Homo sapiens: one gene and its partners. The protein of the gene in region 1 interacts with the protein of each later gene in a pairwise test. Each region holds a gene or a part of one and is shown on either strand. Other genes may lie near its edges.

The links.
Region 2: the proteins of NUTM1 (region 1) and P4HA3 interact in binary tests that used the Homo sapiens proteins (3 or more experiments, as listed by UniProt).
Region 3: the proteins of NUTM1 (region 1) and PSME4 interact in binary tests that used the Homo sapiens proteins (3 or more experiments, as listed by UniProt).

What each region holds. Positions count from the first base shown.
Region 1 is NC_000015.10:34,353,224-34,356,974, reverse strand, and holds part of NUTM1 (NUT family member 1), read right to left. Parts: intron 3,240-3,751; coding exon 3,103-3,239; intron 2,530-3,102; coding exon 2,243-2,529; intron 1,955-2,242; coding exon 1,838-1,954; intron 1,488-1,837; coding exon 1-1,487. UniProt on the Homo sapiens protein: Plays a role in the regulation of proliferation. Regulates TERT expression by modulating SP1 binding to TERT promoter binding sites.
Region 2 is NC_000011.10:74,283,971-74,287,721, reverse strand, and holds part of P4HA3 (prolyl 4-hydroxylase subunit alpha-3 isoform 1 precursor), read left to right. Parts: intron 1-1,330; coding exon 1,331-1,494; intron 1,495-1,736; coding exon 1,737-1,913; intron 1,914-3,751. UniProt on the Homo sapiens protein: Catalyzes the post-translational formation of 4-hydroxyproline in -Xaa-Pro-Gly- sequences in collagens and other proteins.
Region 3 is NC_000002.12:53,922,329-53,926,079, forward strand, and holds part of PSME4 (proteasome activator complex subunit 4), read right to left. Parts: intron 3,696-3,751; coding exon 3,631-3,695; intron 3,362-3,630; coding exon 3,211-3,361; intron 1,092-3,210; coding exon 993-1,091; intron 791-992; coding exon 721-790; intron 257-720; coding exon 189-256; intron 1-188. UniProt on the Homo sapiens protein: Associated component of the proteasome that specifically recognizes acetylated histones and promotes ATP- and ubiquitin-independent degradation of core histones during spermatogenesis and DNA damage response.

The DNA of each region.
Region 1 (3,751 bases):
GGAGTCCCAGTTGTGTAAGACTCCTGACTCTCTTGTAAAGGAGCAAGGTTTTTAGGCTTGGACAGATCAGGATCCACCCTGCCTTCTCCTTGGGGGTCATAAGAATGAACATTCAGTGGGCAGGTGTCCTCGCTGACCCTTAGTTGGAGGCCACAGTCATCTTTAACATCTAGTATGTTGACAGGTTCTATGGTTTCCAACAGAGGAGAAAAGGAATTGCCTCTGCTCCCTGCCTCTTGACTGGCTTCAGGCAAGGAGGAGGCATCCTCAGTCCCCATGATAAGGAGATTGCCTTGGCATGTGGGTGGAAGGGTTTCTTTGGAAGACCCCAGTGTGGAATCACCACTTTCTAGCAATGGGAAGCAACCTTCTGCCCACAGATCACTGGGATGCCCTACGGTTTCACAGCTCTGTTCTTGATTTTCTTTGGACCTCAAGGGTGGGCTGTTGGCCCTCAAAGGTCCTGGCAAGCTGCAATAGTTTCTCTTTTCTAGGGCAGCTGCCGCAACTGTGCCTCCACAGGGAATCACACTGCTCTCCGTATCCCCAGGTACTAGGGTTTCTCCAGGACCCAGGGAAATGTTGCCCCTGGAGCCCAGTCCCTGGCAGCCTTCCTGATACTCAGTTACACACTTCTCAACTTGGAAGCTCTCTATGACCTCCTCTATTTGTACAGGCAGCTCCAAGCCTACAGCATCCATCTCACTGCTCAGCCAAACTCCTGGGCTGAGACAGACATCGTCCCTCTCCCCAGCTGCTCTAGGGGAAGGATTCTGATCATAACTCTGAGCCATGGGGGTACCTCTGTCATCTCCCCACATGGCTCCTGAAGAGCCTTCCCAGGGCACTGCTAAAGGCTCCTTCCCTTGAGGAAGCACTCCACGACCCCCTGTTTGTTGTCCTTTCTGCAATCCCAGGACTTGCTTTTCTAACCCTTGTCCTTGCAGAGGAGCCAGCTCTGCAAGTCCAGCATCCAAACTGGGAGTGCTCTCAGGCTGGAAGCCTCCCTGCCAACAAAGGGGCAGAGCCTCTGAAGTCCTATCAGCCACCAGGCAGTGCCCAGGAGGCCCAGCGCCTCCTAGATGGCCATCCTGATGTAGAGATACCTGGTTTATAACCTTCCCAGACCCTCTCCTCTCCACACCCAAGGGTCCCGGAGTTCCCTGTGGAGCTGCAAGTTCTGGCTGCAGGTCCCAGCTGCTGGGGGATGGCAGAGTGTTCCCATCCCTGTGCATCCCTCTGGGGCTATCTAGGGCTTGCTCCTGCCCACCATGCACTTCTCTTGCCCGTTTTCCTGAAGAAGAAACCTTTCCAAGGCAAGCGGCGCCCCCAGCCCCCTGAAGCCCAGGTGAGGGCCGAAGCCGCCCATCCCCATCTTCATCCTCAACAGAACCAGAAGGACTTGAGTCCAACTGAGCGCCACTGAAACTTGGAGGCGCCTCTGCATCTTCCTCCTCTTCCAAGGCCATGAGTCGCTTCTGGACCAGCTGAAAGAAATGAACAAATAGTCAGTTCTATACGTGGTTGTGAAAGAGGTGGCTGAGTGGGTGGCACAAGACGGTATTTGGGCAGGGCAAGGAAGGCAAGCAAGTAGTTTAAGCGATGGTAGCAAAGACAGATACTGCAGCTCTTTCCCACCTTCTTGTGCCTTATTCCCATGCTTTGAGCCCTTACATTCTCATTTCCTGTGTTTCCATAGCCCTCTACCTACTCGTTCTGCACCTGAAGCCCAATCCTGAAGCTGTTCATCTCTAGAGCCATATCACCCACGACAGTGTAGGGTTAGATAAAATCTTGCAAGCTTCTCGTTCTCATATTTCCTATACCCCAGTTTTACCTGGGCAAGAGTGAGTCCTTCTTCTTGCTCTAGCTCCTCAATTAAGGCCAAGGGATCTCTCTGTTTTTCTGGGGACAGCAGATCTGCCAGAAATTGAGGGTGAATGACAGCCTCCACCTGGATAACAGAAGGAAAAGCGATGTAAGTCTGTAAGCAGGTAACCTGTGAAACAAGGGGCTTTACAGAAGAAACTAAGAGCTCCCCAACTCTCCCCTCTTACCCCTCCGGTATTGTAAACTGACCACCACCGGCTACACACATTCTCATGATGATGCATGCACACACATTACTCAGTTATAGAATAAAACCTAAGTCCTACTGCATTGGACAAACCCCAGATCATTAGTTCCCGGGAGTACCCACCCCAAGGATCTGCTAGAAACAAGATGTGCAGGCCCAGCTCACCTTGGAGACAAAGACCTTCTGAGAACACAGCTCATTGATGTAGCTCAGGAGACCTGGATCTGGATACATCCCTTCCTCCTCCTGCTGCTGCCCTTCTTCCTCTTGTTTTCCATCTGACTCCCCAGTGGCCAAGTGAGTCCCCACCAGCCATTCCATGATGTCAACATACTCCTTCACAGCTTCTGGTGGGATCTCCTTGGGTGCCTCAGGAGCAGGAGGTCTCTGGGCTTTACGCTGACGCCGGCGGGGGGCCCGTGTCTTGGAGGCTGCCTTCTTCGGAATGTACACTAAGGGAAGAGATGGACAGGAGAATGGGAAGTAGCACAGAAACCACAGATTCTGCCTCCTTCGGAATGTACACTAAGGTAAGAGATGGACAGGAGAATGGGAAGTAGCACAGAAACCACAGCTTCTGCCTCCCAGCTCTGTAAGCTCAGCAATCTGGGTACATTGAAATGGTTCCAGGCTGGATTGGGCCAACCTGAAAAAGCGCCAGCCATGGGAGATTTAGGACCTAGAGGGTCTAAGAATCACTGTATGAGGAATTTTGGAATCCCTGAGATTCCAAGAAACCCCCTAATCCAGTCCCCATTTCTTAGGCAGATGAGGTATTATGTGCTGAATTTAGAGTCTCGGTGAGAGTAGTCAGTTTACTTCACCAAGATCAATACCTAGTTCAGGGCAAAAGGAACCTGAGAACCCAGCCTCCTATGGGGTGGTCTGTTTGGAATATCAAATGCCACTCTCCAGAGGGAAAGTGGCAGAGCCTGGGCTATGCCTTCTCTAATCTGTGACTGGCTTCTGTATGCATCCCTTTGAGCCTTTGGCCCACGGCTCCTGTCAAAATTGGGTAGCCTCACCTGGCTGCTGGCAAACCTCAGAGGCCAGGGGCCCTAGAGGATCAAGTTTCAAAGGGGTTGCAGGAGACAGGCCCTGAGACCCATTCATCAGCTGTGTGTTCTGAATCTGCATCTCCTCAGCCTCAAACTCCATGAACCTGCAGAGGGTGAGAAAGGCATAGGCAATGCTGAGAAGGAGACCAGACCCATCAGAAATCCAGACGACAGCCAAGCATGGCCAAGAAAGGAAGTGCTCTCAGGTGGGCAAAGTCTGCCTAAGTCATGTCACCCAGGAGGGTGGTCACAGGTGGCTTAATCGTATTTCCAGGGAAACTTCAGGAGCTCAGCACATAGTTCCTTCCCCTATAGTCATAACTTAGGAAGCTTAAGAAAATGAATGGCCAGGTGGGGTGGCTCATGCCTATAAACCCAACACTTTGGGAGGCTGAGGTGGGCAGATTGCTTGAGCCCAAGAGTTTGAGACCAACCTGGGTAACACGGCAAAAACCCATCTCTACAAAAGATACCAAAAAAATTAGCCAAGAGTGATGACGCGCGTCTAGTCACAGCTATTGTGGGGCTGAGGTGGGAGGATCGCTTGAGCTCAAGAGGTGAAGGCTGCAGTGAGCCATGACAGTGCCACTGCACTCCAGCCTGGGCAACAGAGTGA
Region 2 (3,751 bases), on another chromosome or scaffold:
TACAAAATCACTATTTTGTTTTAATATTTATAAAGTATTTCATGTAGGACTTTATAATTGCATGTATACAAAACTTTTTAATGAATCCATTTAGTAACATTATTCCCTTCTGATAATTAGCAAACAATAGGATAAGGAAGTAGCTGTGTATCTACAAACACATGAGTAATTAGTGGTACAAACAAAATTATAATCCAACCCTTCTTTATTTATTTGCACTTGATCTATTAAAATCTTTGCTATCCACTCAAATTTTGTGCTTTTATAGGTGGATAATAGAACATGGCAAGTTGAGATTCCCAGTTTTATTTCCGGCTTTGCAATATTTTCACTGGGGTTTGGGCTTATAATTTCCATTCTCCAAAACTTCACTTCTTCTCTTGTTAAAACAGAATGGTAATTTCTGCCCCTTCCTTTCCTCCTTTGCCAGGGTGATGGTTGTGGTTAGAAGCACACTGGGCTCCTCAGAGAAAGATGCTTTGGGAGCATTAGAACAATTCAGCATCTCCTTCTGAGATGCATTGAGAGTCATGCAAAGAGGCCAGCAGGCCACGGGTAGCTCTGCCAATGCATGGGGCATCTTGCAGCCAAAGTGGGTACAAACAGGTGGGCACAAACAAGACACAAGATTTATTGGGTTTCCCAAGGGCCCTGTGGGAATCCAGTCTAGAGCCAAAGTCTAGAGTCCCTCTGCGCCATACTTCTTTGCTCTGGGTCTAGGCCAGTTAGGAGATTTGAAAGATCTAGTGGAGCCAAGAATGAATTAGCTTCCAATTCTCTGGGGAAGAATAGGTTGGGTCCTTTTGCAATAGGCTTTGGCTTTCTGGACTTCTCTTTCATTGCACTTATCATATTTTGTTGTAAGTGATAATTTAATGTCCTTTTTCTCCATTAGACTCTAAACTCTGAGAGGTCAACCTGTAGCACAGTATCTGGTACATAGTAGATGTTCACTGAAGATTTACTGAATGGATGGGTGAAAGAATGAATGAATGAATGAGGCTTCATCTTCGCCATATATACCATCACAGTATCCCAGAGCAGCCATCTTCATGATCCCTTGGCCTAAGAGTTTTAAGTTCCACTTTGCTTCCCAAAACCCTTTGCACCTTCAGATCTACCAGGATCAAGTCAGTCTTTTAAAAAAATACCAGGTAGTCTTCTGGGAGTGAGGGCCTTGCATCCTCCTGTGTGTTGACATGAGGAGTTATTCAGGAGATCCACTTGCCCATCCTGTGCAGCAGTGAAGCTGGAGGAAACCTTGGTGGCACTCCCTGGGGCCAGTATTTGTTAATCCCTATTTTATATTCCCTGCTCTGATTTCTTCCAGGCCCAGATAATAAGAGGATGGCCAGGAATGTCTTGAAATATGAAAGGCTCTTGGCAGAGAGCCCCAACCACGTGGTAGCTGAGGCTGTCATCCAGAGGCCCAATATACCCCACCTGCAGACCAGAGACACCTACGAGGGGCTATGTCAGACCCTGGGTTCCCAGGTAGGATTCCTCAGGGAAAGAGAAAGGGGGAGAGGCCTGGCTAGAGTTTGAGAAGCTAGAATTGGGATAACATGAGGGGATAGAGCTGATGCATTAAAAACAATAAAGCTCACTTGGGCAGCATCAGAGTGACCACATTCTGTATCTCTTGCATTCCAATTTTTTTATGCCATAGTTCCCCTAAGTTGAGTTTTGCTCCTAGACCCTTCTTCTCTTATGCTCATCCTATTCTTTCCTTCCAGCCCACTCTCTACCAGATCCCTAGCCTCTACTGTTCCTATGAGACCAATTCCAACGCCTACCTGCTGCTCCAGCCCATCCGGAAGGAGGTCATCCACCTGGAGCCCTACATTGCTCTCTACCATGACTTCGTCAGTGACTCAGAGGCTCAGAAAATTAGAGAACTTGCAGAACCATGGGTGAGTGTCCTGAGAACCCGCCAAGAATTTCTCTTTCATCTTCACATGCCTGGAGTTCAGGAGTGTAAGAATAGGCAACCTGAACAACTAGACACCTCAAAGAGCCAAGGAGTTCAGAATGCCAACCATTCCATAAAACTAGTCCATGGTGGAAAAAAATCACAATAGTGCTTGCCTCTAGAGGGAAAGGATTAACTGGATGATGTACAAGAGGATTCTCTGGGGTATTGAAAATGTGCTCTCAATATCTTGTTAGGGACGTGGTACATGTGGCTGTATGCATTTGTCAAAACTCACCAAATGGTCCACTTGAGACCTGTGTATATCATTGTATGTAAGTTTAACCTAAAAAAAGACAAATAAAAAAGAACACTTCAAAAGTGTCAACCATTCTATGTAATTGGTAGAGGTGGGGAAAAGGGTGAAATGACAGCGGCAAGGAGTAAAATCCTAGCACAAATTTACAGAGTTAGAGTAGAAAGCTAAACTTCATTATTTTGTTAAAAAGGAAACCGAGGCCCAGAGAGGGGAAGGGACTTGTTAAGCTCATACATGTAGCTAGAGCCACAGCTAGAACTTAGAGGTACAGTAGTCCCCCTTATTTGCAATTTTACTTTCTGTGGTTTCAGTTATTCTCAGTGTAGTACAATAAGATATTTTGAGAGAGAGAGGTCATTTTCCCATAATTTTATTACAGTATATTATTATTATTATATTTTATTGTTAATCTCTGTGCCTCATTTATGAATTATAAATTATAACATATAATTATAAATTAAACTTTGTAATTCAGTTACAATCATTATTATAATTTCGTTATAAAAAGAACCAAAGGAGGCCAGAATGATCAGGGCTAGCGGGCCCAACGAAGGTGCAGGGCTTCAACTGAGTCTCCAAAGATGGGCAGAATGTGGCGAGAAGTGTTGAGTGAGTGTGCTTTGGGAAAGGGACAGTGACTAGGAAGCAGATATTCAACACAAGCCACTGAGGCATCTGTCTTCAGTTTCCATGGGGGAGCCACTACCATGTGAGCCCAGGGCTGATTCCTGGGAGAGCCACAAACCAGACAGGCATCAGCAGCCCCAGAGAGATGCTTCTAGGGGAAGGAAGTGTGCCAAGGTCTGTGCATGCCAAATGGACGACACGGCCATGAATGACTAAATAGACATCTCTGGGTGGGTCACTTCTCCCATTACCATGGCAACAGGGCTGTTTTAAGGAAAAATTTAGTTATAATGTAATTATGATTATAATTAAATTACAATCATGATTAAATTAAATTACAATCATGATTAGATTAAATTTTGATTGAAGCCATCCCACTGTCTTCACTTGGAGACCCAGCCTGACAGAGCAGCCTCTGTATGGGACATTGCCAGTCTCATGGAAGAGGAAAAAGACAAATGGCAAACATGAGCTGGTTCATAAAGCTTCTGCATGGAAGTGCCAGATGTTACTTCCACCCATGTTTCACTGGTCAGAGCAAAGCATGTGGGCACTACTGCAGTTAACAGCAAGGTTCTAATTCTTCCACAGGGAAAGCACTGCAAGTCACCAAGCCAAGCTGGATGTCAATGGGAAGAGGACATTTAATCCTCCCCCTAGGAAGTGTGCTAAATATTAACAAGAAAAAATGCACCTCTATAAGCATGTTGCCTCTTTAAAGATATTGTCTCAGAATTATTTCTGTCAAGCCAGACATTGTGCCCTTAACATGTGCAGTTCATCCAGGCAGCCATTAGTCATTCGTCAACAGAATAGAGCCCACTGTGTGCCAGACACTGGCCTGGGTGCTGGGCTTTTACAGTGAGATGAAGTATTGGTTCTTTCCTCTTGGA
Region 3 (3,751 bases), on another chromosome or scaffold:
GCAGTGATCAACTACACCACTCCTTTGACAATAAGAGTATGACATATTCTGATCTTCTGAAGCCTCATCAAATTTCCAAAACTCTGACTTTTCATATGTTTTAAAGTCATTTTGTCAGAAAGAGCTAAATCCTAAAAGCAAGTCAGTGTTTTCACAGTCATGTTTCTTATTCCAAAGATTTACAATACCTCAGACAAAAGTTGAAGATTCCATAGTAATTCCTTGTCTAGCTCTTCATCATTTAATACATCATCATCTAAAAACAGCAAAATACTATTAGGGGGAAAAACCTATGCATTCAACTAAATATAGCATTTTAAAATACTTCTATTTAATATTTCCAATAGCTGAGGAAAACCTCTTTTAGGAAGACTTTTTATTTCTTCTTCATGAAGCTGAGCTTGTTCCAAAAGGAGGTAGAAACAGAATTTTCAAGAAAATAAACACACCAACCAAGACTTCTGCCCCTCTATATCTCACAAAATAACTGATATTTTTGAAGGTAACCTCTGAATGGTGGTTGTATAAGAATATTAATAAAGTAACATTTTTAAGCTACTGCCAACCTGGATGATATCTTTTTTGGAGACAAATTTTCCCCAAATTGCCAATCAAAATATTGTGAAGCTAAAGGAATCTGTTGTCATTAACAGAGTTTTAGAAACCAAGAAAAAAACTTATCCAAAATTGTAAAGAGAGAATAATGACCTTATGACTTACTCATTGTAAGCTGAGTTATAACACTGCAGCAGTGGGGAACAAAGAGCTTCAAAGATTCTTCTGGGCAGCACTGAAAATGTATTTGTATAAGTAAGGCTTTTTTGAAAGGCAAATATATACAAGATTATATTTTCAGTGGCAGTAAAAGGCTGTAAATAAGCAGCTACTGAAAGAACTATGCATTTTAAGCATAGAAGCACCTCTAATAATTAACCATATAAACTAGTTGATTGTTGAGTCATTAATACATCAGTTCAAAAAAATAAACTCACCTTTACAGCAGCGCGGCACATGTCTGCCACCATGCGACCTGCTACTCTTGTTTCAAATATATGTGAAGTAGAAAAATTAAAAACCTTCTGAAGGGCCACCTGTTAAGATATGAAAATGTTTAATGAGCATTTTTTAAGAAAATTAAACATCTTACAGAACATAAAAGAAAATGATAAATATATTTAGACAATTCCAAAAATAAGCCCATAGGCAATTTTTAACCATCTGATTTTATAAGAATTTGTTTAATGATGTTACATTCAGGTCTAAGAACAATCTTTGCCCACGATCCTAACTTGAACAAAATATTTTAGGTACTGGCTGGATGTGGTGGCTCACACCTGTAATTTTAGCACTTTGGGAGGCTGAGGCAGGAGCATCACTTGACATCAGGAGCTCAAGACCAGCCTGGCCAACATGGCGAAACCCTGTCTCCACTAAAAATGCAAAAATTGACCAGGCATGGTGGCGCATGCCTGTAGTCCCAGCTGCTCGGGAGGCTGAGGCATGCGAATTGCTTGAACCCGGGAGGTGGAGGTTGCAGTGAGCCGAGATCGCGACACTGCACTCCAGCCCAGGTGACAGAGTTAACAAAAAAAAAAAAAAAAAAAAAAAAAAAAAAAATTGAGGTACAAGATTTCACTTGCCACAGAAACCCTACACATAAAATTATACCTGGTGGAAGCAAATGCAATTTAATTGTCTTTCTGGCTAATTGAATATAACAAAGGGAATTTTTTGGAATACCTAATACAATTTGTCATCCTGACAACTACAAACTAGACATCTATCCTTACCCTAAAAGAACTGAAGCAGTCTGTTTATTTTACAGTCATGTCACAAAACTTTAATTTACTTGCTCAATGGAAGAATGAGTTCTATACCTGGGTTAACAATACTGAAAAGTATAAACAACTCTTTTTGGTTAAATAAGAGATGATTTGTGTTCATTTCTTTATACTAACATAATCATAGTATTTATTTCACACAGCTATAAGGCAGTTTGGCTTCTAGGATTAACATATTTAACAGTGATAATTACAGATGATGGGAGAAGAAACAGAAATGAAAATAAAGTGTAGTCTTAAAGGCTACAGATAATAGGTACCACATTACAAATAATAGGTACCAACCAATATTGAATTAGTGAATGCTTACTGAATGTCTTATGAAGATAACTACTTCTAATCCATCAGTTAGTCTTAGGATTTAATTTCTATCATGGGAGTGATGTCATAAGCAATTTCTAAAACTCAGCTGAGTAACTGTTTTTAATTGTAAAATTAAAAAATACAGTTGTTTCTTTTTTTTATTTATTATACTTTAAGTTCTAGGGTACATGTGCACAACATGCAGGTTTGTTACATATGTATACATGTGCCATGTTCCTGTGCTGCACCCATTAACTCGTCACTTACATTAGGTATCTCTCCTAATGCTATCCCCCCTGCGACAGTTGTTTCTTGTTGTTCATGGTAGTCATGTTCTATAAATTTGCTGTGACCACTGAACTAGCAAATACTGAACCATTGCTCCCAGGGGAAATACAGGATTATGTTCCTGTGAACCTATGGTGACAACATTTTCATCAACTGATCAATACATAATCCTAAGTGTGATTCTGTTTACAGACAACTTATTTAATACATATTGTTGATTCACTAACATTTAATCCGCAGTCAACAGCAACATAACTCATGCCTGTTGACGCTTACCTAGCACAGTGTTTTTTCCATTAGGCACAGCACAACTCTCTTATGCTTAGGAACCCTCAACCACTTTAAACAATAAACTCTTGGGAGCCATTTTTGACATTTTTAAACAGCAGAATCACCAATAAGAAGCAAAAAAATGTAAAAAAGTGGCATTAAATAGATCGCAAAGGGGACAGTTGTTTAAGTGGAGCTGGATATAAGACGGCAGAGTGCCTCGTTTGCTCTCAGCTGAGAACACATGGCATATGTGAGATCAAATTTAAGTAACTGAATTTTTGTCAGTCGCAAAAGCTTGATTCTCAGGTTGCAAATAGTTAGAGCAAACAGGTAAATTTGCAAATACGAAATTTGCAAATAATGAGCAACTGTACATTTCTTTAAAACTTTAGTATGAATGTAAATGATAAACTGCATGATATACACAAAGTAACTTGAAGTCAATTTTAAAACATCAAATGAAACTTAAAAGCTGGAAGTTTATTTTTTGCAGCAATGTTCTTACCATAAATATTTCTTTGGAACATTGGGTGAGGATTGTACTAAACGTAGAAGACAGACCTAATTCGACCAAACTCTCCAAGTGTGTCATTTTCTCAGTTTCTGTCTCTTCTCTTGTTTGCTCCAATGTGCTACTTTCTATAAGTCCAAAACATCTAAATAATCCAAACAAAGCATAATTTCAGCAACTAAAATCTGGTTTGACATTTTTGGTGGTCATCAGGTAACTCTCTATTGTCCTAATTATTCAAGTGATAGCTACTTAATTTCTACGTGGTTCACAAATCGATTATCCTTTTATAACTTCAGGAGCACCAGTAGTAGCTAAATAAAGGTTATAATGCAGAAATAAACTAAACTTTCTGGGATAGAAGAGTCATTTTCTAGAATTTCAGCTAAACGTTGGTGTGGGTTACAAGCTCACCTGTCCATAAACTGTAAGACGAAATCCTCAAATTCAGCTGTGGCTGAACAAAGTTCTCGTTCCACCTATAATATCCCAATATGGAGAAAGATTACATATAGCCTTTGTTTTTTTTTCCTGA